4 separate regions of the Homo sapiens genome follow, and all the other regions are linked to region 1. The links come from fine-mapping of genetic effects on gene expression. A gene starts in region 1. Each other region holds a variant in brackets. All regions are shown on one strand. Distances are from middle to middle.

Evidence for each region. PIP is the estimated chance that this variant, and not a neighbour inherited with it, causes the effect.
Region 2: its variant is fine-mapped to the expression of SUGP1 in whole blood (INTERVAL, PIP above 0.99).
Region 3: its variant is fine-mapped to the expression of SUGP1 in whole blood (TOPMed, PIP 0.98).
Region 4: its variant is fine-mapped to the expression of SUGP1 in whole blood (TOPMed, PIP above 0.99).

The regions. Positions count from the first base shown.
Region 1 is chr19:19,315,553-19,323,684 of GRCh38, reverse strand. SUGP1 (SURP and G-patch domain containing 1) reads left to right here and starts at 3,176. Exons shown (of 14, transcript NM_172231.4): 1 at 3,176-3,222; 2 at 7,092-7,263. The coding sequence starts at 3,189. It overlaps MAU2 (MAU2 sister chromatid cohesion factor), which reads right to left and starts at 2,856. Exons shown (of 19, transcript NM_015329.4): 1 at 2,550-2,856. The coding sequence starts at 2,825. RefSeq lists a silencer at 2,476-2,697 and enhancers at 2,069-3,040, 2,749-3,238, 3,259-3,308.
Region 2 is chr19:19,408,269-19,416,400 of GRCh38, reverse strand. All of the region lies in intron 1 of GATAD2A (GATA zinc finger domain containing 2A), which reads right to left. Among named protein-coding and RNA genes, the nearest start is that of GATAD2A, 6.7 kb to the right of the region's middle. RefSeq lists a silencer at 5,297-5,386 and an enhancer at 5,497-5,606. The variant A/T (reference allele first, on the strand shown) is at 4,240.
Region 3 is chr19:19,272,930-19,281,061 of GRCh38, reverse strand. TM6SF2 (transmembrane 6 superfamily member 2) reads left to right here and starts at 7,761. Exons shown (of 10, transcript NM_001001524.3): 1 at 7,761-7,941. The coding sequence starts at 7,847. SUGP1 (SURP and G-patch domain containing 1) reads left to right here. Exons shown (of 14, transcript NM_172231.4): 9 at 771-877; 10 at 1,672-1,849; 11 at 2,266-2,372; 12 at 3,183-3,328; 13 at 3,986-4,115; 14 at 4,388-5,029. The coding sequence ends at 4,414. The variant A/C (reference allele first, on the strand shown) is at 4,529.
Region 4 is chr19:19,481,490-19,489,489 of GRCh38, reverse strand. All of the region lies in intron 2 of GATAD2A (GATA zinc finger domain containing 2A), which reads right to left. Among named protein-coding and RNA genes, the nearest start is that of TSSK6, 30 kb to the left of the region's middle. RefSeq lists enhancers at 1-227, 1-530, 1-664, 531-1,314, 4,452-5,236 and 1 more. The variant C/T (reference allele first, on the strand shown) is at 3,273.

The DNA of each region.
Region 1 (8,132 bases):
AAACACAAAAATTAGCTGGGTGTGGTGGTGCGTACCTGTGGTCCCAACTACTCAGGAGGCTGAGATGGGAGGACTGCTTGAGCCCAGGAGGTCAAGGCTGCAGTGAGCTGAGATCACGCCAGTGCACCCCAGCCGGGGTGATGGAGCGAGACCCTGTCTCAAAATAAATAAATAAATAAATAAATAAAACTGGCCAGATGTGGTGACTCACACCTATAATCCTAGCACTTTGGGAGGACAAGATGGGCGGATCACTTGAGGTCAGGAGTTCGAAACCAGCCTGACCAAATGGTGAAACTCTGTCTCTACTAAAAATACAAAAATTAGCCAGATGATGTGGTGCAAGCCTGTAATCCCAGCTACTCGGGAGGCTGAGGCAAGAGAATTGCTTGAACCCACGAGACGGAAGTTGCAGTGAGCCAAGACCGCGCCACTGCACTCCAGCCTGGTGACAAAGCGAGAATCTGTCTCAAAAAAAAAAGAAAAAAAATTATCTGGGGCTGGGCGCAGTGGCTCATGCCTGTAATCTCAGCACTTTGGGAGGCCGAGGGGAGTGGATCACAAGGTCAGGAGTTCAAGACCAGCCTGGCCAATACTGTGAACCCGTCTCTACTAAAAATACAAAAATTAGCTGGGTGTGGTGGCGCACACCTGTAGTCCCAGCTACTCGGGAGGCTGAGGCAGGAGAATCACTTGAACCCGGGAGACGGAGGTTGCAGTGGGCTGAGATCCTGCCATTGCGCTACAGCCCCGGCAACAAGAGCGAAACTCCGTCTCAAAATAAACAAATAAATAAAATAAAATAAAATAAAGTCTCCTTCCAACTTTTCAGTCTGTGAAACAAAGATTTGATCTATTCCTCAAGGCAAGTTGTTACTAGCTGAGGGTGGGCTTGGATTTACCTCAGATTAATGAGTTTTTAAAATCTGAGTTGATTCTTTTCAATAATTTTCTATTCAAGCAGGACAGAGCTGGGTAAAAGGTAAAAGGGAGGCAGGGGTCTGACAGGATCACAGCGCTGCTGTGAGAAAAAAACGACTCCACAGCCTGAAATTTTATTATTTTTTCCTTATTATCTTTTTTTTCTGAGACAGGGTTTCACTGTCACCAAGGCTGGAGTGAAGTGGCGTGATCACTGCTCACTGCAGCCACGACCTCCCGGGGCTTAGCTGATCCTCCCACCTCAGCCTCTGGAGTAGATGGGACTACAGGCCCGCGTCAGTACGCCCAGCTAGTTTTTGTATTTTTTGTAGAGACGGGATCTCACTGTGTTGCCCAGGCTGGTCTCAAACTCCTGGGGTCTAGTAATCTGTCTGCCTCCGCCTCCCAAAATACTGGGATTACAGACATAAGCCACTGAGCCTGGCCCTAGAAAGTTTATTAAAGGGGCCGGGCGCGGTGGCTCAAGCCTGTAATCCCAGCACTGTGGGAGGCCGAGGTGGGCAGATCATGAGGTCAGGAGATGGAGACCACCCTGGCTAACACGGTGAAACCCCATCTCTACTAAAAAATACAAAAAATTAGGCAGGCGTGGTGGCGGGCGCCTGTAGTCTCAGCTACTCAGGAGGCTGAGGCAGGAGAATGGCCTGAACCCGGGAGGCGGAACTTGCAGTGAGCCAAGATGGCACCACTGCACTCCAGCCTGGGTGACAGAGCAAGACTCCGTCTCAAAAAAAAAAAAAAAAAGAAAGTTTACTAAAGGGCAGAATGACAGCCACTCTCCCGCATTCTTTGAGGCACCAAGATGACACAAATCAAGTTGGGTCAGGGGAGGGACTCACTCTGACGGAAGAGGATGGACTGATGGATGGTAGAAGTCACCAGTGGATGGAGAAAAAGCAGGAGCTGCTTTTAGTTCCCCTAATACTGAAACTGAACAGCGGGGCCTGGAATCCAGAACCCCTGTTTCTCCTCCTCATAGGCCTCAAATGACCAACTCCAGACTCCGGGTCTCAGCTTCCCTCGTACGACACCAGGCATTATTGATGGGGGCACAAGACCCTCCAAAAACCACGATTACCAAACTTCTGTGTCCAAGGAGAATCATGCCCTTCCAGGTTCCTGAGAGACCAGACTTCAGATTCCCGGGAGAATGCCAGGGGTCTCGCCTTCGCCAACCCCTACCCCAAGTCACTTTAGGTGGAAGCGTTTGGGGCTGATGCTCCGGAAGCTGAACCAGGAGGAGCTAATAGCTTCAGGACCCTGTGATGTCCCCATCGCCACCAACAGGTGGGATCCTCCTGAAAACCAGACGATTTGCGGATCCTGTTGCTCCCAATAACAGGCAACTTTCAGAGTACGGTGACGGGGCTCCTGGAGCCCTGTCACCAGAAACGGGAAATAAGGCGTGGGGGGCGAGGCTTTCGTGTCCCTTGAGAGGCTGGTGGCTTTGGGGTCCGGCAGAGGCGGGTGGGGGTCCTGCGGCTTTGACGGAGGTCGCGCCCCCAGGTCGCCGAGGAGCGGCCCCCCACCCGCCGCGGTCGCGACCCGTCAGCCCAGATCTTGCAAGGAGCCCGCGACTCCTCCCTCGCGGCCCGGCCCGCGCTCACCGCCTTCTCCAGGTGGCTGCGCGCCTGCTCGCTGTTCTTGGTGTGGTGATAGAGAACGGAGCCCAGCTGCAGGTGTGTACGGGCCTCGATGCGCTGCGGCGGCTTGAAGGGGAACACGGCCTGCAGGCAGTGCACGCACAGGCGGATTTTGGGCGGGCTGGAAGTGCGGAAGTGCTCAGCGAAGCCCAGAAGCGCCAGGTACCACGAGTCGGCCGCCTCGGCCTGCGCAGCCTGGGCCGCCGCCGCCTGGGCCGCTGCCGCCGCCTGAGCCGCCATTTTGGCCTCCACAACAACAAGCCGCCGCCACAGGGAGGCGGAAGCAGGCGCGCGAGACGGGGCCGGGCTCTCCTCGCGGCTTCCGCGAGATCTGCCGCCCAAAGCATCCTGGAACATGTAGTTTGTATTTGGGATGACTGCCGCTCCGGGAAGGTGTAAAAGGGCGACGCCGTTTGGTTATCGTGACTGGGACTTAGGCATCGCTGATAGGCTGAGGCTTCCGTTTCTGGAGGTTAAAAAAAAAAAAACCCAGTCGTTCACGCAGTAATAGGGCGAGTCTGACCGAGGCGGACTACATCTCCCATCAGGCGATGCACACTATAACAGGGCCCCTTAAGGGGCGCCGGAGCATTGTGGGATTGGATGAGTCTCAAGATGGACAACCGGGATGTTGCAGGTAACAGCCCCCGCCTCCTCTCAGGCGGCCGCCTGGGTCCCTGGGGCTAGGTGTCTCCCCTGACTCCTCGGGTCCGTCCTGCTGCGACCCGTGGATCCCTCGCTTCAGCCCCGGGGCAGCCCACAGCGTCGGCTTCTGCACCTCTTGGTTTCTCGAGACCCCAGACCCAGGTTGCTGGCCGCCCCCGCTTGGTTTGCTGAGGACGCACGGATCTCCGTAGAGGCCGCCACCCGGCTCGGCCCTGCGTCCCGTTTCCGAAACAACCGCCTTCAGGGCTGCTCCAACCTCCGTTCCCCAATACGGCGACAACCTTGGGCTGTCCCTGCACCCCTCTTTTCGTCGCAGCTGGCCTCTGGCCTGTGTCCCGCTTTCTGGAAAAGCTGCTTTTCCGAAGTGCTTTGAGGCTCCCTTGACACACTTTCCCGCGTCTTTTGACCCTCACTTTGCTGCAAGCCTTGGCCTTTCTGCTTCCCCAGAATAGAATGCATTTACCCATCAGCAGATACTTAGGGCGTGCTCACTGTGTGCCAAGCAGTGTGCTGGGCGCTACGCATGCAGCGGTGACCGAAACAGGGCCCTGCCTTCCTGGAGGTTGCTTTCTACTGGGGTGTCAGTGCATTAATGAGAAAATATTTACAAAAACTTACGTATGATGTGAGGTTACGTATGATATGATCAGAGTGGAGGCTTCTGATATTGGGTAGTCAGGAAAGACCTTTTCTTTCTTTCTTTCTTTTTTTTTTTTTTTTTTTTTTTGAGACAGGGTCTCACTTTGTCGCCCAGGCTGTAGTGCAGTGGCTCACTGTGGCTCCCTGGGTTCAGGTGATCCTCCCACCTCAGCCTCCCTAGTAGCTGAGACCACAGATGCGCGCCACCACACAGCGAATTTGTGTGTTTTTTGTGTTGCCACGTTTCCCATGCAGGTCTGGAATTCCTAGGCTCAAGCGATCCTCCCATCTCAGCCTCTTAAAGTGCTGGGGTTACGTAAAGGTGTGAGCCACCACACCTGGCCCAGGGAAAGGCCTTTTCAAGCAGAGGACATTTGAGTTAAGACAATGAATGCCAGCTATGGGAATCCCTGGAGGGTGGAGCCTTCCACACAGAGGGGGGCCAGTAAATGCAGAGGCCCTGGTAGGATGGGCTTGTCCTTTTGAAGAATGTCAAGGATGAAGCAGAAGGGAGGGGAACCATCTGGCGGGGCCTTGAAAATGGCCTTTTAGAATTCTTTTTTTCTTTTTGTTGAAGCGGAGTTTCGCTCTGTCGCCCAGGCTGGAGTGCAGTGGCACGATGTCGGCTGACTGCAACCTCTACCTCCCGGGTTCAAGCCATTCTTCTGCCTCAGCCTCCTGAGTAGCTGGGATTACAGGCGCCGGCCACCGCACCTGGCCAGTGTTTTTGTGTATTTTTAGTAGAGACGGGGTATCACCATGTTGGCCAGGCTGGTCTCGATCTCCTGACCTCAAGTGATCTGCCTGCTTCAGCCTCCCAGGTGCTGGGATTACAGGTGTGAGTCACCATGCCCGGCTCAGACTTTTAAAATTTGGATTTTATTCTGAGTCCCATGGGGAACCTCTGAGGTGTCTTCCCTGTCTCCATACTATCACCCTAGTCTGAAGACATCATTGTCTGTTGCTTGGAGCCAGTGAGCCTCCCTGGTCTTGTTGCCTGTGGATTCTCTGGCCAGAATGATTACCTAGTAGCCAGGATGAAAATAAAACGACCCTGTGGATATTGGCTAGGTGTGGTGATCCATGCCTAAAATCTCAGCATTTTGGGAGGCTTAAATGGGAGGCTCCCTTGAGGACAGGAGTTCAAGATTAGCCTGGGGAACATAGCAAGAACCTGTCTCTACAAAAAATAAAAGAAAATAGCTAGGCCTGGTAGAGTGTGCCTGTAGTCCTAGCCACTCGGGTGGCTGAGGTGGGAGAATCTCTAGAGCCCAGGAGTTTGAGGATGCAGTGAGCTACGATCATGCAACTGCACTCCTGCCTGGGCAACTCAGCGAGACCCTGTCTCAAAAAAACAAAACAAAACAAAAAAAACGGCTGGGTGTGGTGGCTCACGCCTGTAATCCCAGCACTTTGGGAGGCTGAGGTGGGTGGATCACTTGAGGTCAGGAATTCGAGACCAGCCTGGCCAACATGGTGAAGCCCCATCTCTACTAAAAATATGAAAAAATTAGCCAGGCATGGCGGCAGATGCCTGTAGTCCCAGATACTCGGGAGGCTGAGGCAGGAGAATCGCTGGAACTCTGGAGGTGGAGATTGCAGTGAGCCAAGATCGCGCCATTGCACTCCAGCCTGGGGGAAAAGAGCAATACTTCATCTCAAAAAAAAAAAAAAAAAAAAAGAAGGCTGGGTTCGGTGGCTCACGCCTGTAATTCCAGCGCTTTGAGAGGCGTAAATTGGAGGTTCCCTTGAGGACGGGAGTTCGAGACCAGCCTGGACAACATGGCGAAATCCTAACTGTACTAAAAATATAAAAATTAGCCAGGTGTGGTGGCTCACGCCTGTAATCCCAGCTACTCAGGAGGCTGAGGCAGGAGAATCGCTTGAACCTGGGAGGTGGAGGTTGCAATGAGCCGAGGTGGTGCCACTGCATTCCATCTTGGCTGACAGAGTAACAGTTCGCCTCAAAAAAAAAAAAAAAAAAAAGCCACTGGGGCACGGTGCCTCATGCCTGTAAATCCCAGCACTTTGGGAGGCCAAGGTGGAAAGAATGTTTGAGACCAGCCTGGGCACTATAGCAAGACCTCATCTCTATGAAAAAATTTAAAAATTAGCCAAGTGAGGTGGTGCATGCCTGTAATCCAAGCTATTTGGGAGGCTGAGGTGGGAGGATTGCTTGAGCCGGGGAGGCGGAGGCTGCAGTGAGCTGAGATCACACCACTGCACTCCAGCCTGAGAAACAGAGCCAGACCCTGTCTCAAAAAAAGACCCAATGGATCTTGCATTCTTCATCTTAGTGCTTCTCCATCACTCCCCAAAGCCCTTATAATAAAGCACAGATGCTCTGACATGCCTCACCTCTGCCTGTCCCTGGAGCAGGCCCCTCTGACACTGGGCACTTGCTGCTCCTTGGATGTACCAGGCTTCTTCCTGCCTTGAGCTTTCACATCTGCTCCTTCTTCTGCCCAGATCATCTCCCATTTGGCTTTTCATGACGCTGGCTTCTTATTTGTTTTTTCTGGTTTAAATGTCTCCTCTTCTAGTGTTTATTTTCTGCCTGTCCTACCTGCATATGTACTCTCCTGTTACTTTTTCACCCTTTTTTGGTTTTCAGCAGAGCTCTTACCACATTGTGCACTTACTTTTTTTTTTTTTTTTGAGACAGAGTCTTGCTCTGTTGCCAGGCTGGAGTGCAGTGGCACCATCTCGGCTCACTGCAACCTTCACCTCCCTGGTTCAAGCAATTTTCCTGCCTCGGCCTCCCTAGTAGCTGGGATTACAGGCACATGCCACCATACCCAGCTAATTTTTGTATTTTTAGTAGAGACAGGGTTTCACCACGTTGGCCAGGCTGGTCTCGATCTCCTGACCTCAAGTGATCCGCCTGCCCCTGCCTCCCAAAGTGCTGGGATTGCAGGCATGAGCCTCTGCACCAGCCCGAAAGTTACTTTTTTATTATGGGTCTATTGTCTTCCCAGCCTGAAGCGAGTCCCACGTGGGCAGAGACCTGTGTTCTCTTGCATAGCACGTAGTAAGTACAGGGTATGGTATGCAGCAGGCACTCTGTAAGTGTTTGCTGAATAAATGAACTAATAGACATATAAATTAATCTGAACATCAGTTGCTCTCTGGCCTGTCACAGCTTCTTGGGGTGTTTGTGGAGTAAGGGTGATTTCCGACGTACTCCTTTTCCCTCCCCAGGAAAGGCTAACCGGTGGTTTGGGGTTGCTCCCCCTAAATCTGGAAAAATGAACATGAACATCCTTCACCAGGAAGAGCTCATCGCTCAGAAGAAACGGGAAATTGAAGCCAAAATGGAACAGAAAGCCAAGCAGAATCAGGTGGCCAGCCCTCAGCCCCCACATCCTGGCGAGTAAGTGCCTGCTGGGGCCTGGATGGGGCCTGGATGTGAGTCTTTGAGGGTCACCAGCACAGGGTTTGGCTTGTGAGGGCAGTCAGCATGTGCTTGCACCCAGCCATAGCCTGATGATCCAAGGAATGACCCAGATGCCCTTGGGAGGCTCACTGTGGCAAGAGAGAAATGAGGGGTATGTGGAAGCCCAGAGGACAGCCTGCCAACTCATCCACTCAGCAGTTATTTACTGCCAGCCAGCTGTGGTGCAGAGGGAAGGGGTATAACAGAGTAAAAATCTCTGCCTTGAGTTCAGGTGTGCTGCCTCACACCTGTAATCTCAGCCCTTTGGGAGGCTGAGACAGAGGATCACTAGAGGCCAGGAGTTTGAGACCAGCTTTGCCAACATAGTGAAACCCCATCTCTACTAAAAAATACAAAAAATTAGCTGGGCATTGTGGCACGTGCCTGTAGTCCCAGCTGCTCAGGAGGCTGAGGCACGAGAATCTCTGGGATCTGGCAGGCAAAGGTTGCAGTGAGTTGAGATCGTGCCACTGTACACTACCCTGGGCCATAGAGTGAGACTCTGTCTCAAAAAAAAAACAAAAAAAAACCTCTGCCCTTATGGGGTGACAAACTACTGGCAAAGGGATGCAGGTGCCGCCCCAGAGCTCCTGGAAGATAACAAAGGCAGTGTGTTCCCAGGCCCCGTGGCCACAGTAAGGCCACAGAGCTTTGCATCCTGAAAGCCCAGGTGGAGCTGGCCCACTGAGGAAGCAGAGAAAGGCCTGCCCAGCAGAGGGCAGGAAGGGGAGAGAGCCCATATGTGGAGGGCCAGCCTGAGCTGCTGTACCAAAGGGGCTGTCCCTTAGTGGATGGCAGGTGGATGA
Region 2 (8,132 bases), 93 kb before region 1:
CAAGATCCTGGGGCCTTCCGGAACCTGCCACCACCCCCACCCCAAATCATCTCTCATCTGAACAAAACATGTTCAATTTCCTTAACCAGGTCTCATCCAGCATCCTTGGCAGTGTTAAGGCCCTCGCTCTTGCCCGGGACTAACACAGTCAACCACTGGAGCCCAGTGCAGGACCTGATATTTAGTTGGCTCCTCCCATTTCCATGTGCTCCTTTTTTGTATCTTTAAATGGTCACCCACATATCACTTGAAGGATGTCTACAAATTAAGTGCAATTACATCTTATAATAGATGGGGACCTGTAATCCCAGTGCTTTAGGAGACTAAGGTGGGAGGATGGCTTAAGTCCAGGAGGTCGAGGCTATAGTGATTGTGATCATGAGCCTCTGCACTCTAGCCTGGGTGACAGAGCAAAACCATGTCTCTTGGGGGGGAAAAAAAACCATACAGGGAAAAGTAGTTTTATGCTCTTAAAATGTAAAGTCGGCCGGGCGTGGTGGCTCATGCCTGCAATTCCAACTTTGGGGGAGGCCAAGGTGGGTGGATCACGAGGTCAAGGGATCAAGACCATCCTGGCCAACATGGTGATACCCTGTCTCTACCAAAAATACAAAAATTAGCTAGGCGTGGTGGCATGTGCCTGTAGTCCCAGCTACTTGGGAGGCTGAGGCAGGAGAATTGCTTGAACCGAGGAAGCAGAAGTTGCAGTGAGCCAAGAACATGCCACTGCCCTCCAGCCTGGTGACAAAGTGAGACTGTCTCAAAAAAAAAAAAAAAAAAAATATTAGCCCGGCATGGTGGCGCACGCCTGTAATCGCAGCTACTTGGGAGGCTGGGGCAGGAGAATCGCTTGAATCTGGGAAGCGGAGGTTACAGTGAGCCAAGATTGTGCCACTGCATTCCAGCCTGGGCAACAGAGTGAGACTCCATCTCCAAAAAAAAAAAAGGCTGGGCGTGGTGGCTCACGTCTGTAATCCCAGGGCTTTGGGAGGCCAAAGCGGGCAGATCACCTGAAGTCGCGAGTTCAAGACCAGCCTGACCAACATGGAGAAGAAACCCTGTCTCTACTAAAAATACAAAATTAGCTGGGTATGGTGACACATGCCTGTAATCCCAGCTACTCGGGAAGCTGAGGCAGGTGAATTGTTTGAACCCAGGAGGCGGAGGTTGCAGTGAGCTGAGATCATGCCATTGCACTCTAGCCTGGGCAACAAGAGCAAAACTCCGTCTAAAAAACATAAAAAAAAAAAAAGTAAAGACATCACCTACTCAACACTACTACAGTTTTTTGGGGTTTTTTTGGGGGGAGGGGGGCGGGGGCAGGTCTCACTATGTTGTCCAGGCCAATCTCAAACTCCTAGCCTCAAGCAATCCTCCCACCTCAGCCTCCCAAAGAGCTAAGGTTACCTGAGCCACTACACTTGGCCACTATAGTTTTTTTTTAAGGCTGCCCTGAGAAACCAGAGGCAGCCCTAAGTTCTCCCTCCCCATGTCCTGCCCCATCCTCACCCTACAGACACCCAAAATGACCTCAGGACTCAAAAAAAAAAAAAAAAAAAAAAAGGGGGCAGGGTGTGGTGGCTCACACCTGTAATCCTAGCACTTTGGGAGGCCAAGGTGGGCAAATCACTTGAGGCCAGGAGTTCAAGACCAGCTTGGCCAACATGGTAAAACCCCATCTCTACAAAAAAAAAAAAAGAGCTGGGCGTGGTGGCGTGCGCCTGTAATCCCAGCTACTTGGGAGGATGAGGCACAAGAATCGCTTGAACCGTGATGCAGAGGTTGCAGTGAGCCGAGATTGCACCACTGCCCTCCAGACTGGACAATGGAGCAAGACTCTGTTTCAAAAAAAAAAAAAAAAAAAAAAAAAGACAAGGCCCTGAGGAAGGAAACTGACCAATGGACCTACATAAATAAAGTAAGAAGGAAGCTAAAACAAAATTCACCAAGCCACAAAGACATCAGTAAGAACAACAGAGATCTGAAAGTCTAATTCCAGGAGAAAACAGGGATATATCCTCATTCCTTCTGCAAGTCAACCTTGGGCAGGCCACTCCTCCTCCGCTTGAGCCTCAGTTTCCTGTTTGTGCCCAGTGTTGGGTTCAGCAGAGCACAGTACACAGAAGAAAGTCCCAGGTAGAATCCTCAGTTTGTCTGCTACCCAACTCCCAAAAATAGTTATATTTCTAATCCTATAACCTGACAGATACAAACTAACAATAAGACTGCAATTACATTTGAACCTATACTCAGTATATGTTAATATACTTGCCCAAGAAAACTTCAAAAGCAGACCAGGCAACTCCTACCACCAACATCTGAGGCTCCCACCCCCTCCCCAGACTTCGGCATCAGGAAATGTTGCTTGTACAGTCAGAAAAGAGACAACAACAAAAAGACTCAACACTAAAAACTTGACCAAAAGTTTGGGGAAGGGAGGCAGGAGACAGATGGCCCACATACAAACTACCGAGGTCAGTTCATCAAACGAACGTATTAATAAAAACATCAAACACAGCCAGGCACGGTGGTTTACACCTGTAATCCCAGTACTTTGGGAGGCCAAGGTGGGTGGATCATCTGAGGTCAGGAGTTCGAGACCAGCCTGACCAACATGACGAAACCCCATCTCTACTAAAAATACAAAAATTAGCCAGGCAAAGTTATGGGTGTCTGTAATCCTAACTACTCGGGAGGCTGAGGCAGGAGAATCGCTTGAACCCAGGAGGCGGAGGTTCAAGCAGTGAGCCGAGATTGCGCCACTGCACTCCAGCCTGAGCGACAGAGTGAGACTCCATCTCAAAAAAACAAAAACAAAAACACCAAACACACCAGCAAACTCTCCCTGGGTTAGAGTGGCTATAAGAGAACCCTAGGAAAGGAGCTGACTACAGAATCCTCTGAAAGAACCACCACTGAACGGGGTGGGCATGAACCCTCGGCAAACCCAGGGACACTACATGAGAAGACAGAAAATGAAGTTCAGGTGTTCCGTCAATGATACGCAAGTCCTGAGAACAGCACAGGTCTCGAGAGTGACGGAACCAATTCAATCGATGCCTTCAAACCAAGAATTCAGTTCACCACTCTCCTACTTTCTCCAGCCACACTTGAGCAACAAGGAAAAATGTTCCTCTGCGGATGTGAACGAAGGTGGTAGCAGCAGTTTTCAAAACTTGCTGGCAGAGTGAGCCTGTGCTAAACACACAAGAGAACTAAAAATCTGCTGTCACTACCACCAAATTCCACCAACTTGAAACCCCAGCAACAAGAAGACAGATGCTCCTCAACTTATGATGGGTTTATTAGAATGCAGCCCCACTGGGAGTAGAAAATATCAAATGCATTTAACACAGCCACTGGTCCCATTTTACAATTATTCGACTTAAAATTTCTCAACTTTACCATGGTACGAAAGGGATCTGTGTTCAGGAGAAACTGTTACAAATCAAAGGGAGCTCCTCGACTTACAATGGGGTTACCTCTGATAAACCCAACATAAAGTTGAAAAATTTTAAGTCAATCCATCGTAAATTGGAGGCCTACTTTACTGGCCTAAAACCTGCCCACCTCCGAGGTCAGGGCAAGCAGCCGTCTCTAAGGTAAGAATGTGTTGAGTATAGATTCACAGCCACTGACTCAAAGGTTAATTGCACAGAATGGCTGTGACTGGAGAAAATGTTAAGTTGGTATTATTTGTAGAGTTAGGGCCACAGGGTTTTTCACATCCCTTCCAGATAATCTGATCAGACCTTTTTTATCCCCCCCGCAGACAGAGTCTCACTCTGTCGCCCAGGCTGGAGTGCAATGGCATGATCTCCTCTCACTGCAGCTTCAACCTCCCAGGCTCAACCGATCCTCCCATCTCAGCCTCGCAAGTAGCAGGGCCTACAGATGCATGCCACCACACCTGGCTAATTTTTTTTTTTTTAAGAGATGGGGAATCGGCCGGGCACGGTGGCTCACGCCTGTAATGCCAGCACTTTGGGAGGCCGAGGCAGGTGGATCACAAGGTCAAGAAATCAAGACCATCCTGGCCAACATGGTGAAACCCCGTCTCTACTAAATATACAAAAAATTAGCCGGGTGTGGTGGCGGGCACCTGTAGTCCCAGCTACTTGGGAGGCTGAGGCAGGAGAATGGCATGAACCCCGGAGGCGGAGCTTGCAGTGAGCTGAGATCGCGTCACTGCACTCCAGCCTGGCTGACAGAGCAAGACTCCGTCTCAACAAAAAAATT[A/T]AAAAAAAAATTAAAAATTAAAAAAAAAGAGAGAGAAAAAAAAGCGGCCTGAGACAGCCCACCAAAAAAAAAAGAGAGAGAGAGAGAGAGAGATGGGGGATTGCTACATTGCCCAGGCGGGTCTCGAACTACTGGGCTCAAACAATCAGCCTGCCTTAGGCTCCCAAAGTGCTAGGATTACAGACGTGAGCTGCCGCGCCCGGCCTTGACCTGACTCTTAGGCCTCCAAATTGTTAGCTTGCAGTAGGATTCTGTTATAAAGAAAACCAAGCTCCTCAATCTGAGTGTTACATTATATGTGATAACTGAGATATGAGGTGTTCAAGAATCACTGTGTAGTTGACATCTGGGGGGAGAAAGCTTTTTGGCTCTGAGGTAAATGGAGAGGCAAAGGCTGGAATACCCCTGACTGCCTGTAGACACTTTCCACTTGTCCTCACAGCATCCTGTTAGGTCAAAGATGCTGTCTCCGCCAACATAAGAGAAAGCTGAGGCCAGGTGATCAGGTGACCCACCCAACGCTGAAGAGTGGTAAACTGCATATCGTCAGTGACAAAGCCAGATCTGTCCAACTCCAAGCTGGCTGGAGAGCTGTCAGTCTGAAAGGCAAGTCCAGGAGGATGAGATTCACCCTGGCGCTCCCAGACACCACTGCAAGTACCATCAAACCACCTACTTCCAGCCTCCACCCAGAGTCCACTCAGTGACAGGGACCCCTCTCAGTTCTCTAAGGAAGGCTCCCATGACAGATCTGCCCGGCAAACAGCTTCCCATCTCACAGATGGAAGTCCGGATGCTGGCTTCCACAAGCCCTGGGCCAGGAAAGAGGCTGCCTCCTGGCTTGGGGCACAACCAACCCAGGCATTCAGTATCGTCAAGAAGGCCCCAAGGCAGTGGAAAAAATAGACAACGTCTGAAATCAGAAAGGCTGGGTTGGGTCCCAGCCGCCGAATAATGAGCAAGGTGACTATGGCAAGTATCACCTCCTGTGGGGAACTTTGCCTTCTTCACAGGAACATGGAGAGAGGGGAATAGGCTGGGGCACAAAGCTGAGGCATGCGCCCCAGTGTGGCTCCAAAGGGGGCATGCAGACAGTGACAGTTTGCCATGAGGGTGGTGTCATCCCCCACAGAAGAGGTGGGGCAGTTGTTAATGCTTGTGAACTCTGGCTCATCTGTTACAGTCATAACAGTACTCACTGAACTGCAACATGTGGAACACACAGGCACTGGGGTCGATCATTTGCACTTGTTATCTCACTCCCAACACAGCCTTCCACGGGAGATAGTAAGTACCCCCTTGACAGAAATGGGAAACAGGGGTGATGTTCAACAAGGTCTTTCGCTAGGAAGTGGCTGGGCAGAGCTCACACCAGGCTGTCTTGAGGCAAAGCCAGGGCTGTCCTGGATGCCACTAGAGACAGGCTGCTCAGCAATAGGCACACGGCCACACTTGGCAAAAAGCAGGTGCCCCCTAGACTCAAAGTGGCCTCCTTGGCACAGGAGGAGCTGCTGTGCCACCATAATGCAGCAGTATTTTTAAAGTGTGTGCTCGAAGGCACCACCTTATTTAGGCTACGTTTCAAGGTTCAAACCAGAATATCTAACCGGCAAGGCAGGCCACGCAGCGCCAGGTCCTGAGACGGAACTGCAGGAGGAATAGCTGAGGGATTCTTCAACAAATCCTTCAAACAAGTGGAATTTCTCCCCAATCCTGTACCACATGGCCACACCCCTCCCCACAGGCATAGCTACTATCTTTGAGGCCAAGCAGCAGGAAAGCCCTGAAGCCTTGACCACTCCACCCACCACCCCCATCCCCCACCCCCTGCCCCAAGAACTCCCACTTTGACTTGCTGGGAGCCCTCCTTTAGAGTACTGCTCATCTCCTGCCAGCAAATCCTATCTCAGAAGCTAGCCTCCAGCATCCTCGGAAATTGCAGGTCTTCAGCCCTTCCATATAAGGAACCCTAAAATCAGGAATCAGACAGAAAGGCAAGTTCCCTGACAAACTCACCTGTGAAGGTGCCTCTGGAGGCTGAGGAGAGACAAAGGGGGTACAGCGTACAGAGGAGCTGCAAGGGGCCCTGGCAACTGTGCAAACTGGTGCAAACGTGTGACATTCTCACTGAGGGCCCCTCTCTCCCACACCTAGAGGGTTTCGTGGATTCCCAATCACTTCCTGAGGCTACCTAAAGGTATTCTATTAGGGTAAATTCCTTTGTCTTCTAAAAGACTAACCTACATTTCCATCAGACAAAAAGAGGTCACAAATATAGTCTGGAAAGCACAAGGTGGGGGAGGGGCAAGAAGCCAACGGTCTGACACTCTCTTGACAAAAAAGTCCCAGATCCTGTTTGCGGGGATGCTGGGGAACCCATGCTCGAGCGGGATCTGTCCCCAGTGGTACCTTTGTTTCTGACAGTACGGGTCTCACTATTTCCACCTCGCTGCAACCACCAACCACTTCAAGATCCGTCTTTTTTTATCTCAACCTTCTTATTTTTAATACACTGCCTTCCTAATTCCATTCAAAGACATACCTTTGCACAGTTAGCACTTAAGTCCTGTTAACCTGGAAGACCCACAGTCTGAGGCCAGACTGTGGAAAGCTACCTCCCGAAGCAGCTCAGATAACTCAAAAGCATCCATTCTAACAAACGACCACACTTAGCAGGCAGCATAGTTCTGTATGCCTCAAACTATGACATTGCCAACTTGTTCTTCTGGTTCTGCCACACTTCCCAACCAGACAAGGGTTAGGAGGAAATCCCAGGGATGCTCTATTACCCCAGGACAGCTGCTCGAGAAGACTTCACCCACTCACCTATTTCATAATCTTCCTAGTTTTCTACAACCAGCATAAATTAACTCAATTATGGGGGGGAAAGGTCTAGAGAAAATAGCCCTGCCTGTTCCATTTGATGGCACAGAAACACCCCGAGTCCAAGCAGGTAGTTCTCCAGAAAAGCATCTGAGCTGCCCAGGCTTTGAGGTGTCAGTACATGCTAATGATGGTCCTTAAACAAATTCAGTGGTAAGGGCCATTACATTTTTGTCTCTGTTGGGAATTCATATATCCAAAACTCTGCTGGTCATTCTTAATTTTCTTCCAAGAGAACAAACACCAAAAAAAAAAAAAAAAAAAGCCAACATTTCAAGAATGGCTTTACAACTTTACCAGCCACATTCTTCAGAGGCATCCTTTAGTCATCTGCTAAGACCCAAAGAGGTCCCGGCTGTGAGCCTCACTGCACCAGCCCTTGCCTTAATCCCCTTCAAGAGGGTCCCCCTTCTTGTTCTCTGACCCCAGTAGGAGAAAGGTCCTTTCGGGCTCACCAGGTCACAGTGTCCTTCTCTCCTTGATCCCTGTAAGTTTCCCCATGTTTATAAGATTAATTACGACTCCTGGCCCACTAATCTCACTATAAACTCTACTGAGGAGGGATTCCTCGCAGTGTCGAAGGCACAGTATGCACTCTGATATTTGTTGAATATATCAATCTAGAAATCACTACCTGCAATGCCAGAAATTCAGAAAATAAATGATGCAAAACAAGTCAGAGGAGCTACTGAAGAGTTGAAAATTAGAGTATTTAAAACATGTTTCCTCATTAAAAACATACACACACACGCAAAATACAGAGACACTAAAAAGTTTTCTAAAAAAGAAAAACTATTGCTAATCCTAATGTAGAGACCTTTATTGACATTCTGGTACAAATCCTTCCAGGATTTTTTCCTACCGAAAGTAGCATTATATTTTTCCCTCACTATCAAAATATAAGATTATAGGATTTGCCAAATGATACTGCATTAATAGAGATGACTTGACATTTTAAAAAATGATGTCATCTGAGTGGAAATAACAATGCATCCGCCAGGCGTGGTGGC
Region 3 (8,132 bases), 43 kb after region 1:
GACTAAGAGTGCAAATGTGGGCCATTCTTAGCGGCAAAGCCCGAGTGTTGATGAGCTGGAAGGACCCAAATCTTTTCCCTTCCCAGAGGGCCCGCTGCACCCCTTTGCTCACCTTCTCCCCCGGGAAGCACCGCACCGCCCGAGGGGTGGTGGTTTCTGCCACCCGGATGGGGCTGTTGCAGCATCTTTCTATGTGTCAGTGTTACTGGAGCCTGCCAAGTTCCACAGCTGATGCCAAATTAAATGTCAGCTGCTCTGAGGATGGTTGGCTGCCTCCCCTGAAGGAGCTAAGGGAGTCGCACAGCTGAGTCTTACGCCAGACTCTGAATCTGTGCGCGCTTACACCTGGTGTCTGTTAGCAACGGAGCTGCCTTCTGAGAGCCCGTTTGTGCGTGCGCCCATGCATGCTGCCCACATGCCGTCTCAGCTCTCTTGTCTCTGGCTCTGCAAATTCCTGCCCTGTCACTCGTTAGCTGTGTGACCCTGAGTGAGTCCCGGAACCTCTGATTCTTGGTGTCCACATCTGCAATGTGGTGGTGCGTAGAGCCTGGCTGGAGAGGTCACAAGGACGTAAGATGCGGGGGTGCACGTGGCAGCACACAGCGGGACCCCGAGGCCGTCACGTACCACGTGGCACTGACAGTAATGATATGAGGTCCCCGTGTGCCTGGAGTGTCATGAAGGTGTGAGACTCACAGCACACCCCAGCGCAGGAGCGAGATCGGGGTGCACCTGTCAGGCTCTGACTACCCTGTGTCTTTGGTTTCCAGTTCAGGACCTCAAGGGGCTCGGCTATGAGAAGGGGAAGCCTGTGGGTCTAGTGGGCGTCACAGAGCTTTCAGACGCCCAGAAGAAGCAGCTGAAGGAGCAGCAGGAGGTAAGACTGCGGGGACAAGGGGACGGGGACATGGTCGGCGCCCATAGAGTGTTGTCCTCTACCCCCGGGTGCAGCGGTCACAGGGGTTCATGTGCTTCGCCAAGCTCCTGTGTTCAGGTGGAACCCATGGCCAGCGGGGAGGCTTCCAGGCAGGCAGGTCCCCCTGCCCCAGTAGGTGGCATGCCACCCCCCACTGCACCTGAGTGGCCTCTCAGCCTGCCTGGGAGACCACTGGCCCTTGGGGCGGCCCCGGTGGTCTGTGATCCTGGCCTGAGCTTTGTGGCTGCTTCTCGCCGCGCTCCAGGGCTGGTTCCCATGGGAGAGTCTACGTTGATGTTCTTTGTCCGCAGTCCTCTGTCGTGTCTAGTGCAGGACCATCCTGGTCAGCACAGGGCACCCTGAGGGACTTGAGGCCTCCCAGTTGTAGTTGGGCAGTGTCGGTGTTGGCTCCCCTGAGGAGCTGCAGGCGCTTGCCTGTCAGTCCCTGGGGTCAGCTCGCTGTGACCCCTCCTCCAGGCCCGCAGCCCCGTCACATCACCCTTGACCCTCCCAGGGGTCAGGACCCTGAGTCACCCTCATTCAGTGGCCAAGAGGTCCTCCGTGCTCCACACTGGGATTTAGAGAACCCAGGGCAGTACTCAGTACTTGCTAGAGTCCTTGCTCCAGTCCTGCCCAGGGGTCCAGATGAGCCACGTTCCGGCGGGGGATGCCCAGCACTGGAGGCGGGGAGCAGGAGCGGGGCTCCGGCAGGCCACAGCACCGTGCCCTGGCTCACTGGCGAGTGTGCCCTGCAGATGCAGCAGATGTACGACATGATCATGCAGCACAAGCGGGCCATGCAGGACATGCAGCTGCTGTGGGAGAAGGCAGTCCAACAGCACCAGCACGGCTATGACAGTGATGAGGAGGTGGACAGCGAGCTGGGCACCTGGGAGCACCAGCTGCGGCGCATGGAGATGGATAAGACCAGGGGTATGTGGGGCAGCGGGGTGGGCCGGGCTGGGCTGGGCATGGCCCCCCTCACCTGCCCTGGAAGGTTACCTGGATGCGCCACACGTGGTCTTGAGCTGCCATCCTGGTTTAGCCCCCAGCCTGCTTCCTGTGGCTGTGAGGCCTGGAGTGAGAGGCTCAGTCTCTCTGGGGCCTAGTTTTCTCCGTGGTGAAAAGGAGCAGTCCTGACATCGTGAGGGTGGAGAGCTGCACAGGGTTCACTAAATGCTGGGCTGCCTCACCAGGCAGAGGCTCGGGCTGGGGTCATGGCCTAGCCGCCTCCTTCCCTGGGGGCCCCAGGCTCCCACTGAGCCTCATACCTGTGCCCTGGGAGCCACCAGGCCTGCTCCCCTCCTTCCTGCTTCTCCCTCTTCTCACCTTTCTGCTTCTCTGAGCAGAATGGGCCGAGCAGCTGACAAAGATGGGCCGGGGCAAGCACTTCATCGGAGACTTCCTGCCTCCAGACGAGCTGGAAAAGTTTATGGAGACCTTCAAGGCCCTGAAGGTGAGCCAGGAGGGGCCCTAGCTCCAGCCTCTGCCACATGCCAGCCCCTCCTGTAGCTGCCTCACCCTGCAGGTGCCCAAAGTAGCCTGGCTACCCTCTCGATCACAGCAGGAGCCAGGCCTTTTCGCTGCAGGAGGCATCTGTTAATGACAGGCGCCGTCTGTGTAGGGAATTAGCAAACAGCAGCTCAGCTGCTGCCTCAGAAACATTTCCTGGGGCTGCGGGGGAAATTTTGCTTCCAGTGGAGCCAATTAAGTGCAGTTTACAGGCAAAGTGTTTCTCCGGCAGAAGTCCCCACGGACTGGCCTCTCCAGAACCAGAGTTTAACATTCTGCCTCTGCTGCTGTTGGGCTCCTGAGGAGAGAGGGCTGACATGGCACGTCCCCCATTATCTTTTTGAGGTTTTTTTATAAAACTGTTCAGGGCCTGATAACCTCATTAGTGAGGTGGTAACCTCGTTGTCCATCTCTTATTAGTACCTTGTACAACAAATTGCTCTCAGGACATGAACACGGGGCTTCTCTTTGCCAGTGAACCATTGCTTTATCTCAGGTGGATAAGGCCTGTGTAACTCATCCTCTTGCCCTTTTGACTTGGCCACCAGGGGTGCACAGTTTGGCACTAAGGCCCCGGGGACCCTGAGAAGCAGGAGGAGCTTGGTCTGTTTGTTCTCAAGGAGTCTGATCTGGTGAGAGGGAGGCAGATGGGCCACTGGTCCCAGCACTGATTGAAACCAAAGGCAGAAGGTTGGATTTGGGGGCCACCACAGCCCCAGCCCTGGTGGGTGACAGCTACCTCCTCACCTTGCAGGAGGGCCGTGAGCCTGACTACTCAGAGTACAAGGAGTTCAAGCTGACTGTGGAGAACATCGGCTACCAGATGCTGATGAAGATGGGCTGGAAGGAGGGCGAGGGGCTGGGCTCAGAGGGCCAGGGCATCAAGAACCCAGTGAACAAGTGAGTGTGGCCTTGTGGGAGGGCATGGCCATGAACTTGGGGTCTGTGGGTCCCCTGCCGCCTCCCCATTCCCACCCCTTTATGTCATCGCTTTTCCCTTGTGGCAAAATGATCACAGCACCCCACTGCACACCCCTTGTCAGGCACAGGCCTGCAGTGCAGGAGGCCATACGGGCTGGGTCCTCCCCAGTCCCAGGGCCTCCTTCCGTCCCCTCATGAGTATCTCCAGGCCAGATGGGGTGGGTGAGGGTACAGATGGGTCAGGCCTTGTCTGCCTTGTGAAGGGCCTTATTTGAATTCCCCATGAGTGCGAAACCACTCCCAGAGATGGGCAGGAGCTCTCCCAGGTGTGACCCTGGCCCCGAGTGCCCCCTTCAAGGCTGTCCTTGAGTAACCATCCTGCCATCCCAAGAGCTGCGACAACTTGCACTGTGGGCTCCTCCTTCCTGTGTGGGACCCTGGGGCCTAGGCCCCCCCCCCCCGCCCGCCCCGGGGGTCTCCCCTCCTTGACCATTCAGGTTCAAGCTTCTCTCTGTGCAGATATGTCCCAGCCCAGCCCTGCACCCGCGGGAGGTGCTGTTGAGAGCCCAGCTGTGCCCGGCCCCCCGGCCAGAGTTCTGGCCCCAGGTCCCTGCTCACATCCTCTTCTCCCTGTAGGGGCACCACCACAGTGGACGGCGCTGGCTTCGGCATTGACCGGCCGGCGGAGCTCTCCAAGGAGGACGACGAGTATGAGGCGTTCCGCAAGAGGATGATGCTGGCCTACCGCTTCCGGCCCAACCCCCTGGTACGCATGTCCTCCTGGGCTGCCTTTGCTCAGTCGACAGGAGAGGGTGGTGGTAGGAACAGAAGGCTCCCTTCCTTCCTCAGTCCAGCCAGGCTGGGTCTCACCAGCGAGCCCCCTACCACCCACCTGCATTCAAGCCCCCACCCGTCCCCCAAGCCTGCCCTGCCACCTCAAGGGTGCGGGCTCAGCTGCCTCCGGAAGGTTCCAGACAGGAGGAACTGCTGTCTTTAGTGCTAATCCCCTCCTCCTGTTATCTGTTTTGCCTTCCACAGAACAATCCCAGACGGCCTTACTACTGAGTGTTCTGGAAATACATACTTTCTGAATGACCAACCGTCCCTGGACTGTGGAATGTTCCGGCCTGCATTTCTGCCCACCCCTTCCGTTGTCACGAGTGCCGTGCCGTGTAATAA[A/C]GTCCCAGTGCTCATCCACCACAGATGCCTGGTCCTGTTGCAGGAAGCCCCTCCTGTTAGCAGCGGGATGCAAGATGCTGTCTCGGGGCTCTCCTTATTGGCCTGTGGAGTCTCCATCCCCGCTCAGCCTGGGTTGCACTGGAGGGGAGGAAGAAAGTTGTTTTCAGCATAGTAAAGCTGGAAGGCCAGGTGCAGTGTCTCACCCCTGTCATCCCAGCACTTTGAGAGGCCAAGGCGGGCGGATCACTGGAGGTCAGGAGTTTAAGACCAGCCTGGCCAACATGGTGAAATCCTGTCTCTACTAAAAATATAAAATTAGCTGGGCATGGTGGTGCACACCTGTCGTCTCAGCTACTCGGGAGGCAGAGGCAGGAGAATGGCTTGAACCTGGGAAGCGGTTGCAGTGAGCCAAGATTGCGCCTTTGCACTCCAGCCTGGGCAAGAGAGCAAGACTCTGTCTCAAATAATAATAATAATAATAAAGCTGGAGACTTGGCCACACCTGGGCTAAAGGAATGTCAGGAACCTCCGAGCCTAGCACTGTGCTGCAGAGGGAGGTTGGGGAGGGGTCTCCAGGCAGGGCCCCACCTTCCCTCAGACCTGTGGGGGCAGGTGGCTTCTGGGCACACCCATGTGCTCTCCTGGCAGGTGGTGCTGGCACGGCCCAGCACACAGGTGTTGGCTGTGGCCCTTCAGGTCCCACCAGTGTGGTAGGCACACGAGTCCCTGGGGCTTGTGTCGTTAGGGGACAGCCGCATGGATGCATGGATGTGCCATGCCAACATGTCAGGCAGCTCCTAGAAGGAAGGGCCTCAGAGCCGGAGGTTTTGAGGCAGGAGGGTAGCCCAGGCCACAGTGTGTGCCAAGACCCCCACATCTGCCCCAGGGCCAGAGCCCCACATTTGTGCCTAAGTCACCCTGGGGATCTTGTTAAGCTGCAGCTGCCGAGTCAGCTGGTTGGGCAGGGCCCTGGGAATTTGCATTTCCATCTGCCCCCACCCCCTCCACACACACCCAGTGGGTGCTGCCCAGCCCCTGCAGGCACCAGGGGCTCCCTATTCACATGCTTGGCATGGAGTCGGGCTCCTGGGCCAGCTTGTGTTCACACAGCCATTCAGCAAACACTAGGTGCCAAGTGTGGGGACCAGGTGGACAAGATCTACTCCAGTCAGCCAGGCTGCTGGGGATGAGGTCTGAGGCTGCTACTGAGAGGAACCAGGGAGCCGTGGTGGGGCGGTCTGCAGAGTGTCTCAGTGGGGTCTGAGACCAGGGAGGTGCCAGATGCAGTGGCAGAGCCAAGGCTGGGGTGATATACCACCCTTTGTTCTTTCCTGACGCTGTGGCTGAGGCAGAGCAAAGAGTAACATTGGTGGGCTTGGCCTGGGTGCCCATGAATGAGGGCTGCCCAGAAGGCAGTGGGCCAGGACCCTGAGCACAGCGGGGTAGTTCTCTGCAGCCAGTGGTTCAGGGAATCCTGGCACTGGGTCCCAGGCATTCAGCCATCCAAGTCACTTCTCAGTTCTCAGCAACCTGGAGGCTCACCAGGCTCAGGGCATGGACTTTACCCCTTGCCAGGGGACGAGGCCTCCAAGTGCTGTGTGCGTGTGCAGGTGCATCCTGTACACGGGACAAGGCCAAGCCCCTAGGCTGAGCTGGGCACAGGCACCCTGGCCTTGTGTGGAGAAGGTGGGGTGGGGGTGGCAGGCAGGGCTGCCTGGAGGAGGGGATGCTGGGGCCCGCTTACAAGAAGGCTCATTTTACAGACAGAAAGCAGGCCTGGGGGGTGTTGACCCTGCTAGAGTTGGGGAAAGTCCAGGGGAACCTGAACTTCACCCATGGGCAGTGGACACCTGGGGAAGGAGGCTGAGTCAGACCTGCGGCCAGAAGACCCTCTTGTGGCCCAGTTCAGGAAGACCTGTGACCCAGTTGGCATCAAGCTAAGGGGCTGCGTGCAGAATGGGGCCTGAGGTAGGGGCAGTGGTTAGAATTTGTGCCAGCTGCAGACTGGGGTCCCGCAGGGCAGGCGTCAGGTGGGCATGGTTCACCTTGCTGTCTGCAGCATCCACAAGTACTCCACATGGGCCAGAGTCTGGTTGGAGGGGGTGACAAAGACAGATGGTCTCCTTATTCTCCCCCCCAATACTGTGGCCCCCTCCCAGCTGTTCAAAACCTCCCACAGCCTCTCACAGCTGTCTCGCTTCTCATCACACCCCAGCAGAACCGACCTCCTTTCCACTGCTCAGTTCCAAGCCTGAGCCACTTTCCTCCCTGCCAGGAACACCGTTCCCAAACTCTTCACCAAACTGGCTCCATCCCGATATTCTAACTTCAGCCCCCACCCGCTAGGACCCCTTCTACCCTCTCCCCGAAATGAAGAACCCTAAACCCGGGACTAGCCTGCAAAGGGACAGCCCCGGAGTCAAAGCCTCACACTTAAAGACCCCTCGCAGTGGCTCACGCCTGTAATCCCAGCTCCTCGGGAGGCTGATGTGGGAGGATCTGTTGAGCCCAGGAGTTTGAAACCAGTCTGGGCAAAAAAGTGAGACCTCTGTCTTTACAAAAAATAACTAGCTGCGCGTGGTGGTGCATACCTGTAGTCCCAACTACTTGGGAGGCTGAGGTAGGAGGATCTCTTGAGGCTGGGAGTTCAAGGAGGAGGGCCACTGCACTCCAGTCTGGGCCACAGAGTGAGACCTCTCAAAAAACAAACAAAAAAACTTCACACCTGCCTGGAAACACGTTTACATTTGTGGCCACCTTATGAAAACTCAAATCTAAGCCCACTGAAAGGCATTTTGCACCCAAGAGCTGGAGGTTGCTCCATCCGTGCGCACAGGGAATGCCGACTTGATCTTTGGGTGGGGATGGGAAACTCTGGGGAATGCAGAGGTTTAGAAGCGCAGAGTCCAGGAGAAAATTTCCTTAGAACGAAGTTGTGGAGGCAGGGGAAAGAGGGGGCACGCCAGGACCTCCAGGGCGCACCCCTTGGCCTAAGAGCAGAAGCATCCCGAGGTGTTGTGTCCCAGCCTTTGACAGTGAGGGAAACTGAGGCTGAGTAGCGGGACGGCCATTGGAGACGAGGGTGTCGATGGTGAGGGGCGAAGGGGCGGGGCAGCTGCCAGGGGGAGGGCCGGGGAGGGGCCTTGGAGGCTCCCTGGGAACACGCAGGGCGGTCACGGCGGCCTGCCCAGGGCGCAGCGGGGTCGACCTTTGTGCGGGGCGGGTCCCTGGCAGCCTCGGCCCGGACTCGCCGCCAACGAGGAGCCGAGCGCCCTGGAGAACGCGTCGGGGCTGAGCCGGGGTCCAGCAGCCGCCGCTATGGACATCCCGCCGCTGGCCGGCAAGATCGCGGCGCTGTCGCTGAGCGCCCTCCCGGTGTCCTACGCGCTCAACCACGTCTCGGCGCTCTCGCAGTGCGTGCGGAGAGGGGCCAGGGCGGCCTTGGGGACAGTGGGGGCGGGCGGGGGCGGGGAGGACTGGAGGTGGGCTGGAGGGAGGATGCGCGGTCCGCGGACCTGGCTTCTGCGAGCCCTGCGCCCCAGCTCAGCTCCGACCCGGCAGGATTGGGGTGGGCCAGAAGAACACCCCCCTCTAACCGGAAGTC
Region 4 (8,000 bases), 170 kb before region 1:
GGGAGTGAACTTCCTGTATGCTAATCAGGCCACCAAAAAGTCATGTGACAAAGGCATTTCCCTCCTTGGTCACATGACCCTTTAACTGTGCCTTCCAACGTGAAAACCATGGCAACGGCCAGTTCCAACCGGTTTGTGACACGCAGCCTTCATTTTGAGAAGGGAGGTAAAGGTTCAGGTACTGTCAGAAAATGGAGGCGCCAGGCTCACCCCAGGGCTGTGGAGCTGCAGGCACTTCCTGTGTGGCGCCAGCCCACAGGGGACTGTTGCTGCACCACAGGCTCCAGTCACCTCTACATACACCGCACACAGCAGGGTCACTGGCCCCTCTAAGTTTCTAAAATGAAAAACTTTGTTAAGCTCACTTTTTAAAGGAGAGAGGCTTTAAGAGTCTCAGTACTTTCTAAAAGAGATCTTTAATTCAGGAAAAAGAGCATGTGGCTCAAAATGATTGCAGGCATTATTTCAGGGAAATATTTAATTATAAAAACTGTCTAAAGTAAACAAAACCAGTGGAAATCTAGCCCAACATGCTGAGAGGGATGGCATCGTGGCCCAGGGACAGCGTCTGCCATTCACTCCACAGCAGCCGTCCCGGGCACCAAGTTTATTTGGAAGTGATGTGATAGTTCAGGACAAATCCCATAAGCCCGTCCTGCCCATCTTGAGAAGCCTTAATGTAAAACGTAGTGATCAAGAGATTTTATGTGACCTACAAAAATCCCTGGAAGCAGGCCAGGCTGTTATCAGCGTAAATGGTCTCACCCGCTCGCTGACACGCACCACCCCCACTCCCTGACCCGCTGGCACTGGCCCTGACCTCACAAGCACAGAAATTCTGTTACCTGCCAGGAACTTCCATAGAATTTCCTGGAGGAGAGGCCGGGATTATAAACTTAAATTGAGACACGATCCCACTTCCACAGCAAAAGGTTATGGCTTTCAGCTGCTCAGCAACCAGCGGCCAGTACGTGGTTAATATTTAGTGTCCCCTCAGCCAGTGCCGGGAAGGAGCTGTCCTTGGAGGCTGGGACCTTTGTGGTTCTCTGAACAGGCCTGCCTGGTATGCAGGAAAGACATACCCCTCTCCCTCATTCATTCATTCATTCATTCCTTACATCTGCTGAGAGCTCATTTAAAAAGCAGGTGCTATAGCAGGCAGTGGGGAGGAACCCCTGGATAAAAGGAATTTCTGTCCTTAGGGTTCAGTCTACCAGGATGGACAGACACAACAGGGGAGCGGCAGGTGGGGGCAAGGCTGTAGGTGGGCTTGGGGCTGGCCCCGTGAATGTCTGACCACCGCTGTCACCGCCATAGCAGCAGGGCAGCTTCTCCGGAACTTGTATAAATGAAGCGTGTCCTCCTTGCCCCAGACCTGCTTGATCAAAGTCTGTATTTCAGCAAGATCCCCCAAGTCTTGCACACACTAGGGAAGTTAGGGATGACCATGACCTGTAGCTCGTGAGGCCTCGGTACAAGAAATCCTCCTCCAGGCTGGCTTGGGGAGACAGGCAGGGCCCAGCAATGCCTTCTCCAGCCACAGAACCATTTCCCACTAGAACCTTTCCTCCTCACCTCTTTCAGGCCTAGCAGGGTGGGCTGCTGGCTGTGTGCAAGGGTGGGATGAGGGCTCTGCTAGAGCCAACACCAGCCCTGCCAGCTCACTTGTCCCTTGTGCAAACACTCATCTTGGGCTCACCAGGCCCTACCTGACATGAACCAAGCTGTTAACATCCCCCGCCCTCCTGGGGCCTGGCCCACAGACATGGCCCAGCATGGCCATGTTCTGCCTGCAGAACATCCCTCTTCAACATGCCTCAGGAAGCCTGCCCGGCCCTGTCCCCTTGCCTCGGGGTGAAGGTCATGGCAGAACTCGGGGTTCCACTCGGGGGAGTGCAGGTCTGAGCAGAAACCCCCCAGAGCTTCCCAAGAAGGGCTGGCTGGTGGGTCTGTGTTCCTTAGCCACCCCCAGCCCAGTGACTGGCCCACCCACCCTCGGCCCAGCAAGCCCATCTAAGTGCCTTTGGCTCCCTGCACGGCACCCCACCCCACCCCCCTATGAAGATGAGCCCTCCCTCCCCCTGCCTTGCAGGGTGACATGTCAGCACCTGTCTGACAAGCAGGTTCCTGCACCCTGAGCTGGGGGCCATCACGACCTCCTTCAGGTGGGTGTGGCACCGGCACAGCACCCAGGGACCTATGGCCCCACTCTGTGGCACAGCCTCAGCTCCCAACAAGGGACAAGGTGTTCCCAGGACCAGATGAACAAAGGGCAAGGGGGTATCCAGCCCTGGGGTGATACCACAGCCCCAGAGAAGGGGGCAAGCCCCCATGTCCTCAGAGCCAGGAATCTCCTCCTAAGTCTATGATGGCTGGGGATGGGGGAGAGGCTGGCTGAGCCTGTCATGTGAGGGTGCTGAGCCCTGAGCCCGCATGCTCCTGTGGAGTAGCTCCTTTAGCAAGCTGAGGCCTGGAGCTCACTGGCCACCCTTGCCCAGCCTTGGACTTCAAACGACTGCCGGCAAGTCAGGCTGTGGAGAGAGCCCTCACCCAGTGAGCTAGAAGACACCTGGGTCTCACTTGATTCTGCCTCTTGCAAGTGACACTTCCCTCTCCATGGCTCCTGCATGGCAGGGCAGAGGAATCCCTGTCCCGCAGCCTCTCAGGGCTGCCTGGTGAGGTGAGACTTCAGTGCTGAGGAGGCTCGGGCACCTTAGACAGCCGGCTGGCTGCAGGGGGATCAGGCAGCCCTGCTGATCTGAAAGTGCTCAGCTCAGGCCTCGGGAACAGTGACCTTCCTGAGAGCACTCATAGCCACCCTGCATGCCCCTAGAATGGAGAGAGAGGTTTGCCCCGACAGCCTGCGTCCCCTGCACCAGGTCCCATTCCCACCTCGGAGAAGGAAATGGAGTTGTTTGCCGGGAGCTGCCCCAAGGCTGTCATTTGGTGGGGCGGGAGCATCCTGCTGTCAGATCACATGCTGCCTCTTCAGAGCCAGCCGCCCACATCCAGCAGCCCCCAAAACCCAGATGGCAGCAGCACCACGGCCTCCAGAGGCAAGATGGATGCTCTGACAGGATGCAACCTTGAAGGGGATAGGAGCATGCAGGAGTGATTTTCTTTTGGATTGTCGGGCCTTAGAAGACAGTACTTCCTGGGGTCCCCAACACTGGGAAGATAAGGGCAGCAAACAGGCCGCCCGTGCCTTCGCCTTGCAGCTCCCAGATGGAAGCAATGGCAAACCTGAAACATCTGCCTGACCTGACAGCTTT[C/T]TGAGGAAAGAGTGGGAGCCCATTACAGAGCAGACAATCTCAGTAAACAGGTCCTGAAATGTGACACCTGAACATTCACAAACCCCCCAAGGGCAGACTGGGTCTGCTGGGGGCCTGGCAAGGCTGGGGAGCGCCCACTTCCTCCTCTTGCCTTGATGGAGGTTCCAGGGTTGGGGCTGTGAGTTCAGGAGGAACCAGCGCCACGGACTGATGGACCCCCTTGCACGGTGGGCAGCTGCTTCCCTCGTGCACATAGATGTTGTGCTGCTGGAGGAAAGGGAAACTCACTCACAAGGATTTCTGAATTGTGTGTCATCGTGCGTCTTTGTAAAGCAACAGACCCTGGAAGCCAAATTCCTATTTTTTGAGTCCAAGCGCTTTTGTGGATATGAAGAAGGAGCCCTAATACTCATGGCTGACAAACCCTGTACACCAGACCAAACTCTGCAAGGCCCCCGGCCCATCTCTGCAGTCCTGAGGAGGCCGGAGGCTCTGGCTGCATCTACTCATAGCCCCCGTAGTACTTGACCTGGGCTGGTTTTATGGCTCAATTCCCAAACTACAGAATGCAGAGGAAGTGACGTGGCAGCCTTTTCAGGTGAGGTCACAGAAGCCTTGCAGCTTCTGCCTGAGCCCTCGGAATGCTTGCTCTAGGAGAGCTGAGGTCTGACTGCCCCAAACCACCACGGGATCAGAGGCCCACACTAGCCCCCGCTATAGTGGGGGAGATGGAGACAGGCACAGAGACTGGTCCAGCCAGTCCCAGCTGTTTTGGCCATCACATGTGAGTGATGAAACCACTGGGGACACCCAGCCCAGCTGACATGCAACTGCAAAGACCAGAGGGCCCCAGCAACAGTGCCCAGCTGGGCGGGACCAGCCAACCAGCAGAACTGACAGACTGAAAAACGTCAATACCTCGCTGCTTTAAACCACTAAGCTAATGGAGCCAATGGCCCAGGCTGGCCCCTGGGGAGCTAACCCATATCACTGTAACTCCACTTCCTCCCTCAGATGCTACCCTGGGACAAAGCAGGGAAAGAGAAGGGGGAAAGAAAGGGTTTACCCAAGTAACTACCCACTGAGCCTTAAAGCACCCCCTGACAGAGGGACCAACAGCAGCCTGCACAGAGGCCCCCCAGACAGGTGCAGACTCAAGATGAGAACAGCTCTAGGAAGGTCATGTGGGAGACCAGAGCTGCCCAACAATGAAAGGGGCTGAAGAGGGTCCCATGGAAAAGGAGGAGGCAGTCTGCAGGCTGGGAGGCACCCCAGCTTCAGGCAGCACCTGGAGTGAAGTGAGTCAAGCCAGAAAGCAATTCCTCATGCTTCATCCAGTCTCTCTACCTGCCTTCAAGAAACACTCCTAGAAAAATCCTATGACAGGCTGGGCGCGGTGGCTCACGCCTGTAATCCCAGCACTTTGGGAGGCCGAGGTGGGCGGATCACGAGGTCACGAGATAGAGACCATCCTGGCTAACACAGTGAAACCTCGTCTCTACTAAAAATACAAAAAATTAGCCAGGCGAGGTGGCGGGCGCCTGTAGTCCCAGCTACTCGGGAGGCTGAGGCAGGAGAATGGCATGAACCCCGGGGGGCAGAGCCTGCAGGGAGCCGAGATCGTGCCACTGCGCACTCCAGCCTGGGCGACAGCCAGACTCCGTCTCAAAAAAAAAAAAAAAAAAGAAAAAAAAAAAAAGAAAAAGAAAAATCCTGTGACAGAGAAAAAGGACACAGTTATCAGTTCCCCAAGTTAGTCCTACCACTGAGCAACTTCTTTTTTTAGAGACAGGGTCTCACTCTTGTCAGGCTGGAGTGCAATGGTGTGATCATAGTTCAATGTAGCCTGGAACTCCTGGGCTCCAGTGATCCTCCCATCTTAGCCTCCCAAGCTGCTGGGACCACAGGGAAACACTACCACACCTGGCTAATTTTTTTCAATTTTCAATTTTTGATATTGAGACAGGGTCTCTCACTCTGTTGCCTACGCTGGAGCACAGTGGCACGATCATGGCTCACTGCATTTTTAAAGTTTTTGTACAGGTGGGGTCTCGCTGTGTTGCCCAGGCCAGTCCGGGCAATATCTTGTGTGTCAGGCCCCTGTGTAGTGGGTGTGCTGACATACAATTCTGGCAGCATTCACTGCAACCTGGACGTGGGGGCTGCTCACTGGGACCCCACGCAGTCCTCCCTCCTTTCCCAAGGGGTGGTGTTCACTCAGAGACACTCAGCTGATAGAAAGAGAGCTCTGTTGTCTAGACACAGGCTGTGCCCCAAAACTGAGGAACTAGGCCGGGTGTGGTGGCTAACACCTGTAATTCCAGCACTTTGGGAGGCCGAGGCGGGCGGATCACGAGGTCAAGAGATCGAGACCATCCTGGCTAACATGGTGAAACCCCATCTCTACTAAAAATACAAAAAAAAAAAAAAAAAAAATTAGCCGGGTATGGTGGCGGGCACCTGTAGTCCCAGCTACTCGGGAGGCTGAGGCAGCAGAATGGCGTGAACCCGGGAGGTGGAGTTTGCAGTGAGCCGAGATTGTGCCACTGCACTCCATGCTGGATGACAGACCGAGACTCAGTCTCCAAAAAAAAAACACTGAAGAACTCCTGGGGGTTGTCTGGTGTCCTCCCGAGTCACCCCGCTCCCCATGCCCTGAGGCCCACCTGCTTCTCGCCAGCCGCAGCCCCTCTGCGGTTCCCTCAACTCCCTTCTTAGCATCCATCACACTTCTCCCGCCATGTAACTTGAGCTCCTCTTGGCTGGGATGTGAGAGAAAAGCCCAGAGCCTGCTTTGTGGGGCCCAGGAAGACAGAACACATTCTGCTTCTCTGCCTCAGAGGCCGTGGAGGTGAGCAGCTGGGATGGGATTTTTGAAACTCAGCCATCATTCTTCCTGGAGACTTCAGGTCCAACGACCGCTCTGGGAATCCATTATGGTGAGCACTGCCACAGTGCTGGCTAAAGAGCTCAGGAAAAAGAGAGAGAGTCTGTGTGGCTGGCCCAGACCTCTGAGCCCATCCCTGCCTGCTCTCCTTTCCCCAGTACAGAAGGGAGCAGTCCCAGGTCCCCAGCTAGAGCAGAGGAGCCCCATGCAGTGCCCGCCCCCAGCATCAGCACAGCCAGGGGGCGGCCAGCCGGCGCTGCCAGAACGCCTTCTAGGAACGCAACAGCCCCTGAAGTCAAAGGGCCCAGCCAGGGAGGCCCAGAGGACCTCACTGTGACAGGGGCCAGTCTCGGGGGCGTGCAGAATAGCTTGGCTGAGGGTAGTAGAGACAAGCCTAGGAGACCTTAGTACCATGCTCATGTGGGCCAGCAGCCTCTACCCGCCCACAGAGGCCACTGCAGCCCAATCTTGTCAGCAGCTGACACCATGGGGGAGGCCACATCAAATCCAGCACGTTCTGCTTAGAAATACAGGAAGACACATGCATTAGAAATGACTACAATCGAAGAAATGAAAGGCTAACTTTTCAGGTTTCAAAAACCCAGTAAACACCTGCTGAGCCTTTATGATGGCCATTCCTAGGCCAACCACCAAAATTCACCCTTCCACATAATCCTCTCCACAGCTCCATCATTACCCCCAGTTCCCAGTACAGGGAACAATCTTAAGGGAGGGCCACATGACTTCCTAAGGTCACACACCAGGACCTGCAGACAACCTGGGCTCCTACAGCACCTGAGCTCCTGTGTGGACCCCTCACTGTGCCAGGACCCTGGGGGAACCCTAAAGAGGAGGTGTGGGGTTAGAGAGGATAGGCCCCATGTGACTGGCAGCTGCTAATTCAGGTCATCAAATATCTTTATTTGGAGACAAGCGTCTCCCTCTATTGCCCAGGATGGAGTGCAGTGGCGCGATCTTGGCTCACTGCAAACTCTGCCTCCCAGGTTCAAGTGATTCTCCGGCCTCAGTCTCTCCAGTAACTGGGACTACAGGCGCCCACTACCACACCTGGCTAATTTTTGTATTTTTAGTAGAGACAGGGTTTCACCACGTTGGTCAGGCTGGTCTCAAACTCCTGGGCTCAAGTGATCTGCCCACCTCGGCCTCCCAAAGTGCTGAGATACAGGCATGAGCCACCGCGCTCGGTCATATTTTATTTTTTTTGAGACAGGGTCTCATTCTGTAAACCAGGCTGGAGTGCAATGGTACAATCACAGCTCACTACAGCCTCGACTTCCTGGGCTCAAGCGATCCTCCCACCTCAGCCTCCTGAGTAGCTGGGACTACAGGCACGAGCCACCACACCCAGCGAATTAATTTGTTATTTATTGGTAGATATGGGAACTACTATGTATTGCCCAGGCTTGGTCTTGAACTTCTTGGGATCAGGTGATCCTTCCACCTCAGCCTCCCAAAGTGCTGTAACAGGCGTGAGCCACTGAGCCCCACTATGTCATTTTTGGAATAGTGAACCTTTATTTATGGCTGAAGGATCCTGGACAGCCAGTAGCATCCACAAGCTAAGTCCCTGAGGTGTGAAGGAGGAGGCAGTGTGAGGACACAGATGTGGCCCTCGGACTCTATCAAGAAATGATAACTTACCCAAATCACAAGACAAGTCAGGGGATGGTCAGAAACAAAATATGGCCAGGTGCGATGGTTCATGCCTGCAATCCCAGCGCTTTGGGAGGCTGAGGTGAGAGGATGACCTGAGCTTTGGAGTTCAAGACCAGCCTGGGCAACACAGTGAGACCCTGTCTCTAAAAAAATTAAAAAGCTGG